Linked DNA regions of Homo sapiens. The protein of the gene in region 2 interacts with the protein of the main gene of each other region in a biochemical or structural test. Each region holds a gene or a part of one and is shown on either strand. Other genes may lie near its edges.

What was found.
Region 1: the proteins of DENND1A (region 2) and ARF4 form a complex in vitro, tested with the Homo sapiens proteins (one study listed by BioGRID).

What each region holds. Positions count from the first base shown.
Region 1 is NC_000003.12:57,576,682-57,580,602, forward strand, and holds part of ARF4 (ADP-ribosylation factor 4), read right to left. Parts: intron 707-3,921; coding exon 635-706; intron 1-634.
Region 2 is NC_000009.12:123,923,218-123,927,138, forward strand, and holds part of DENND1A (DENN domain-containing protein 1A), read right to left. Parts: intron 1-3,921. UniProt on the Homo sapiens protein: Guanine nucleotide exchange factor (GEF) regulating clathrin-mediated endocytosis through RAB35 activation. Promotes the exchange of GDP to GTP, converting inactive GDP-bound RAB35 into its active GTP-bound form.

The DNA.
Region 1 (3,921 bases), on a different chromosome or scaffold from region 2:
AGTTTAAAATCATGACAAGGATTCTCAGCAGTCTTCCTCCATTTAGTACATTTAACAACATGAACACATGAAAACATTAATCCAATCTATGGGAAGGCTGCAAAATGCCACTGTGAACCAAACATTTGTCTCTACTTTCAGAAGGAATTCCTTATCCTTAAATGGTTACTATTAAAAAACATTTCTGAAGTAATTATTGGCACAGCATAGAGAAAATGGAACCGATGACCTTGGGAACAAAACATCTGAACCAAGATTCCTAGGGTCAAAACCACTACAGCACTATAGATTTGATATCTGTAAAGTAAGGGACTGAGCTAAATCAGATATCCTCAGCCAGAGATAGGCATCAAGATTACCCATGAGGCATTCTAAAAAAAAAAAAAACAACACTGCTCTGCCTTCCTCCCAACTTACTGAAGTAGCTACTCTTCCATGTGTTTTTTAAAACGCTCTATAAGAGATTTTGAAGTACATTATTAAGAACCTGTGGATAATATAGTTTCTTAAGTTTATTTCTAGCCCCCCCAATCCATTTGTGTAATCTAATCATAGTCAAAATGTACTAAACCACCACCAGTTTAATCCAGAAAAGCACACCTTGAAAATGATGAATTTAAAGTATATTTCTTACCATTTTCTGCAGCTCATCTGCTACTTCCTGAATTCTTTCACGATCGTTGCTATCTACCACAAAAATAAGACCCTGGGGAAAAATTGTTTCAGTAAATTTTAACAGTTAAACGACACTCTCTATATGAAACAGTGTAGGCAGCAAAATGGTACCAATGGTTAGACATTAGGAAGAAAATGTCTCTTTAAAAGTAAGAACTTAAGGCTGTAATGCTAAAAGCTGATTTGAGAACTATTTGTAAGTTTAATTTATTAGTGCTATTTCAAATCTAAAAAATTTTTATTCTTCACCAATTAATTACTTTTCTCAACTACCCTAAGAATAAATTGTATCTATTTTTCCCCTTCCCTCTGCACTCTCACATTTAAGTGCAGGTACCAAAATAGCCACAAAGTAGGAACAAAAAGAAAAATAACAAATCAAGGATCCTAAAGAATCGTGAATTTGGCCAGGCATGGTGGCTCATCCTGTAATCCCAGCACTTTGGGAGGCTGAGGCAAACGATCAGGCCTGAAATTGCTTGAACTCAGGAGTTTGAGACCAGCCTGGGCAACATGGCGAAAGGTCATCTCTACAAAAAAATACAAAAATTAGCCAGGTGTGGTGGTGCATGCCTTTAGTCCCAGCTACTTGGGAGATGAGGTGGGAGGAATCACGAGCCCGAGACGGAGGTTGCAGGGAGCTGAAATCGCACCACTGCACTGCAGCCTGGGTGGCAGAGCGAGACCCTATCTCAAAAAACAAACAAAAAAACCCCATGAATTTACTAACTGAATTAGCTTACTGACTCAAAGGCATGTACAGAGTAATAAAAGGGGGGTGGGATAGCGCGAGTGTGTACACTACAGTTTTTATCTGCTTCATCATGGAAGGAAAAAATTAACTTGCTTCAGAATGCTGCCTGCCAACTCTAGATCAGGAAGACATCTTAAGAAAATGATAGCAAGAAAAATCCAAGACTGGGCGCAGTGGCTCACTCCTGTAATCCCAGCACTATGGGAAGCCAAGGCAGGAGGATCACTGGAGCCCAGCAGTTTGAGACCAGCCAGGACAATATGTCAAAACCCTATCTCTTAAAAAAAAAAAGAAAGAAAAATTCAAGATTTACCTGATCGAGTAAGACATTCTTTAAAAAAAGGAAGGTAGTTATCAATTCTTAGAGATACAAATATTAGCTTCTTTTCTCAGACAGGGTCTCAACTCTGTTGCCTAGGAGCACAGTAGCACAATCTTGGCTCACTGCAGCCTTGACCCCCTGGGCTCAAATGATCCTCCCGCCTCAGCCTCCCAAGTAGCTGGGACTACAGGTGCGTGCCACCACACCTAGCTAATTTTTCTATTTTTTGTAGAGATGGGGTTTCACCACGTTGCCCATGTGGTCTCGAACTCCTGGACTCAAGTGATCCACCCATCTTGGCCTCCCAAAGTGTTGGGATTACAGGCATGAGCCATGGCACCTGGCCCATTATTAGAATTCTATACTACAAAATAAATGGAAGGAATTAGGAAGCAACTAGTTGAACTGTTTTTCTAAGAACTTTCAAATGGGAAAGTATAGAATTTTCAGCTAGAAAAGGGGGGGGGCAAAAATAAAAATAATAAAAAAGAAAAAAAGATAAACCTTGACTCCTAAAGTATCAATTTTGATCATGTCACTTATAACAGATTGTCTTGCACTACTGATTTATGTAAGTAACGAGGCTGGTTGAGGTGGCTTTCGCCTGTAATCCCAGCATTCTGGGAGGCCGAGGCAGGTGGATCACCTGAGATCAGGAGTTCGAGATCAGCCTGGTGAAACCCCATCTCTACTAAAAATACAAAAATTAGCCGGGCATGGTGGCACACCTGTAATCCCAGCTACTTGGCAGGCGGAGGCTGCAGTGAGCCGAGATGGCGCCATTGCACTCCAGCCTGGGCGACAAGAGCAAACTACATCTCAAAAAAAAAAAAAAAAAAAAGGAACTAGATTACATCCACTAAGGGCAAAGGACTATACTATATCTTTTTTTTCACCCAGGCTGGAGTGCAGTGGTGCCATCTCAGCTCACTGCAAACCCCTCCTCCCAGTTTCAAATAATTCTCCTGCCTCAGCCTCCTGAGTAGCTGAGATTACAGGCGCCCACCATTACACCTGGCTAATTTTTGTATTTTTAGTAGAGATGAGATTTTACTATGTTGGCCAGGTTAGTCTTGAACTCCTGACCTCAGGTGATCTGCCTGCTTTGGCCTCCCAAAGTGCTGGGATTACAGGTGTGAGCCACCGCGCCCAGCCCCATCCTACATCATTTTCTGTTTACCTCTCAGGATTACCACAGTACTGGGCTCTCCAGGAGCATCTAACACTTATTTTACATCCATTAAATGACAATTTCCTTTGTTTTAGCAAATTGTAAGTCCATTTCCTTTATCTCTGTTGGAAACCATAACTTAATTTTTAAATTTTATTTTACACTGCATCTATACCACCTGGAAAACCATCACTTTAAATATCCTATCCTTTGAGAAAACTTTTGGCTGGCATGGCACCTCTAATCCCACCACTTTGGGAGGCTGGGGTGGGAGGATCACATGAAGTCAGGAGTTCAAGATCACCCTGGGCAGAGTAAGACCCTGTCTCTACGAAAAAAATTAAAATTTTAGTAGGGCATGGTGGCACATGTCTATAGTCCTAGCTACTTAGGAAGCTGAGAAGGGAGGATCACATGAGCCCAGGAGGTTGACTGAAGCTACAGTGAGCCATGATCATGCCACTGCACTCTAGCCTGGGTAACAGAGTGAGACCCCATCTCAAAAACAAAAAATAATGTTTGATGCTTTGGGAGCCAATATAGTGTGGTGGGAAGACAGACTCAAATTCAAATCTTATACTACTTGTTATATATATTATCTAATCCTTGACTATGCCTCGTCTAAATAAAATAAAAATACTAACTTCATAAGCTTGTTAAAGATTAAATGCAATCACAGAGATATAAAAGATCATTGTTCTTGGCTTATCATGGGCATTTATTTAGCAAATATGTCTCCTCCTTTCCATATTTCAAAAGCTACTCCTTTTTAGAACCAAACCTTCCATTTTTTTGTTTCTTCTTTTTTTCAAAAAAGAGGCAAGGTCTCCTTTTGTCCCCCAGGCTGGAGTACAGAGGCGCAACTGTAGCTCACTTCAGCCTCCAACTCCTGTGCTCAGGTGATCCTCCCACCTCAGCCTCTCAAGTAGCTGGGACTACAGGAGTATGCCACCATGCCCAGGTAATTTTTTTTTAATTTTTTTTTGTAGAGACAGGGTT
Region 2 (3,921 bases):
TGTACAATGCCCTCTAAGTTGACTACAATGGCTAAGAAAAGAGTGATGGAGTAGCACCAACATGTTTTCCAGAAAAGTCATGAAAATTCAAGTGGCTGACTCTGAGCACTAACGATGGAGAGCTTGGTCTTCAAAGAGACTTTTATTCCACCACTCCAAGTCTCTCTACATTCTCCTTTGGGGACAGGGAGGACAGCACTGTGGCGGAGAAAGGGAAGAGGGGAATAGGCATTAGAGGAAGAAGGCCTGGAAGGAAGTCACATTCCAATTCTTGGTCTCATCACAAAGCAGAGAGATACGTTAGTTGTGCTATACAACAGGCCTCAAGAAAAAGCAAACTTTTTGTGTATTTTGGCAATGGGATCCTTTAAACAAACTGGAGCAGAGCTATCATAAGCCAACACTGCTCCTCTATTCTTGAAATGAGATCGGTTTATCCTCACTTTCAAGTCATATAACTTCCACTTGTCTTCCTTTGGTAATCCCCCTCCATTCTCCAAATCTCCCCTTTCTTTCAGTTCAAGTTCCAACCTCTTCCTAGAAACCTATCTCCGTCTACACTGATCTTTTCTATGTAACTCATTTGGGCCAAATCAAAACCACAATAAAATACCACTTTACACAAAGTGGTACAGCTGCTTTAGGAAACAATTTTAACAGTTTCTCAAAATGTTACATAGAGTTACCAAAAGATCCAGCAATTCCACTCCTAAGTATATACCCAAGCGAAATAAAAACATATGTCCACACAAAATGTTCATAGCAACATCATTCATAATGATGAAAAGGGGAAACAACCCAAATACCTAACAACTGACAAATGGATGAGTAAAATGTGGTATGTCCATACAATGGAATATTATTCAGCAGTAAAAAGTAATGAAACACTCATGCATGCTCCAACATGGATAAATCTTGAAATCATTAAGTGAAAGAAGCCACGCAGGACGGGTTATATATGATTCTATTTATTAATATATGAAATGCCCATAAAAGGCAAATCTATAGCAAGTAGATTAGTGATTGCCTAGGACTGAAGGGTTTGGGGGAATGAGGAGTGTCTAACAGGCATGGGGTTTCTTTCTGGGGTGATGAAAAAGTTCTGGAATTAGTGGTAATCAATCACCCTTGTGAATATACTTAAAACCACTTAAAAAAGTAAATTTTAGGGCTGGGCACAGTGGCTCATGCCTGTAATCCCAGCACTTTGGGAGGCCAAGGCAGTCGGATCATCAGGAGTTTGAGACTAGCCTGGCCAACATGGTGAAACTAAAAATACAAAAACTAGTCAGGCATGGTGGCGGGCACCTGCAGTCCCAGCTACTTGGGAGGCTGAGGCATAAGAATCACCTGAACCCAGGAGGCGGAGGTAGCAGTGAGCCAAGATCACACCACTGCACTCCAGCCTGGGGGACAGAGTGAAACTGTCTCAAAAAAAAAAAAAAAGTAAATATTATAGTATGTGAATCTTATGTTGTAATCTTATAAGATTCACATACTATAAAATTTCGTATCTTAAACAGTTTTCAGATTACCACAACCTACAAGGCCCTGTCCAGGGTCTCTCCCTCTGACCTCACCACAAGCCTCTCTGCCATCAGTCACTACTCAAACCCACTGGCCTTCTGTCCGTTCCTGAAATATGCCTAGGGTTTTCTTGCCTCAAGGCCTGGAATAAAAAGTCTTGCCTAGTCTCTTTAGATGACTAATACCTCCTCATCCTTTAAGTCTCAGCTCAAATGTCATCTCCACAGTGAGGCCTTCCCTCGCCACTCTATCTAAAATAGGACAGTCGCTCCCATCATTTTCTCTGAGGCAACTCATGTGCTTCCTTTATAGAACATCCACATAGCTTTATGTGAATTCACCTGGTTTTTTTAATGTCAGGTCCACAAGACTGTATGCACCGTGAGGAGTGAATCTGTATTATTCACCATCGTAATTCCCAATGTCTAACACAATTCCTGGCATTTAAGTGCCAGGAATAAATGGTAATATTTTTATTTCCCTAATATGCCACGTCCTCATATGTACTGCTCCCTCTGCTGATACCACCACCATCACTACTGCCTCTACTCCCTCTGCTAACCACCCCTACCTATCTCTCAGCTGAAACATGATCCCCTTGGTGAAGGCTTCCTTTCCTGACCCTCCCTCCTCCCCAGAAGACAGTCTCTCCTTCACTTACTCACCTATTCGTCACCAGCGGCATCTCCACCATTGCAATTAACTTATACTGTATTATACTTGTGTTTTGTTTTTTTTGTTGTTTTGTTTTGTTTTGGTGGGGAGGGAGTCTGGAAGGGATTGTTTTTGTTTTACATTTGTGTCCACTACTTTAGAAAGCCTTAAAGAAAAATATTTGTTCATCTTTGTGTCCCCAGTACTTAGCACACTGCCAGGCACAGTATTGCCACTAATTATGATAATAATGGCTAACATTTATTGTTTAATATGTGCTTAATCTTCTTAGTTCTACAGTAGGTAAATGGATGAATAAATGGATAAATTTCTTGGTCACTAACCTCACAGAGGTCACAGTTTGACAGGGACAGAAGACAGGTATACAGGCTAATGTAGAATAATCACCACCACAAGGCCAAATTAGTTGCCCTGCCCTGTTCCTATGCCTCAAGTCTTAGAGTATGCTTTTCTCTGAGTCCATAAATGTCACGTTTCTTCAAACTCACTTAGAAAACTTCCTTCGATTACTTACAGCCCACTTCCTGCACTTGGTGCCTGGAAGCAATTTCTAGGATGTCACCACAAGCAATATTAAACTGCCACATAGTTTCCTGCTGTGTGTCTGCATTATCAGTTAAATTGCTTCATATTAACCACATTCCAGTCCACTGGGATCATTCAAACACTAAATAAGATTTAAAAATACCTGTTGAAGATTGTCAGTTACCACTGCTCCTTTTATTCTTCTAGATAAATGTCCATACAGATGTAACATTTAGGTTTCCAGGGTGCTACCTGCATACTGGTGACCTTCTCTTTTTTTGTCCATTAAATGTTGATTTGAGGCAAGACAATGTTCCTTTATTAAAATAAACATGAGGCTGGGCACGGTGGCTCACATCACACCTGTAATCCCAGCACTTTGGGAGGCCAAGGCAGGCAGATCACCTGAGGCTGGGAGTTCAAGACCAGCCTGACCAACACGGGAGAAACCCGTCTCTACCAAATAAAGAAAATTAGCCAGGCATGGTGTCTCATGCATGTAATCCCAACTACTGGGGAAGCTGAGGCAGGAGAATCGCTTGAACCCGGGGGTTGGAGGTTGCCATGAGCCAAGATCATGCCATTGCACTCCAGCCTGGGCAACAAGAGCAAAACTCCATCTCAAAAAAAAAAAAAAAAAAAAGAACTAAATAATCTAGTAAAAGGCCTGCGTAAACCATATAATTTGCCTTAGAAATTTATAAAATATAAAACTTTTCTTCCTCAAGGGTTTTTTTTTTAACTCGATAAACACTCAACTCGGTCTTAATTAGAATCTTAATATAGATCCTAATGTATTTCTTAAATGCGTTCCATGAACTCTTCTCAAACAACCATGTGCCAGGCATTGAGTCTGACACAGGGAACTCAAAGATAAATAAGACAGTCCTTCCTCTCAAGAAGTTTATGTCCAGCATGGTACGGGACACAGACAAGAAACGAGATTCAGTATTGTGACTGCAATAAACACAAGGGGCCACAGAAACACGGATGAAGGGCACCTGGCCTAGACTGGAACAGGAGGGGGTGGGGGTGGCAACAGGAAACTGGCATCAAGGCAGGCGTCTGGGGGATGGCATCTGATCTTAGGCCTATAAACTCCCATTCTCTCATTTGAAAAATGTGGTTAATAAATAGCATCGCCACCACTGGACAGTAGTGAGGGTTTCATGAAATGGTTCACATTAAGGATTT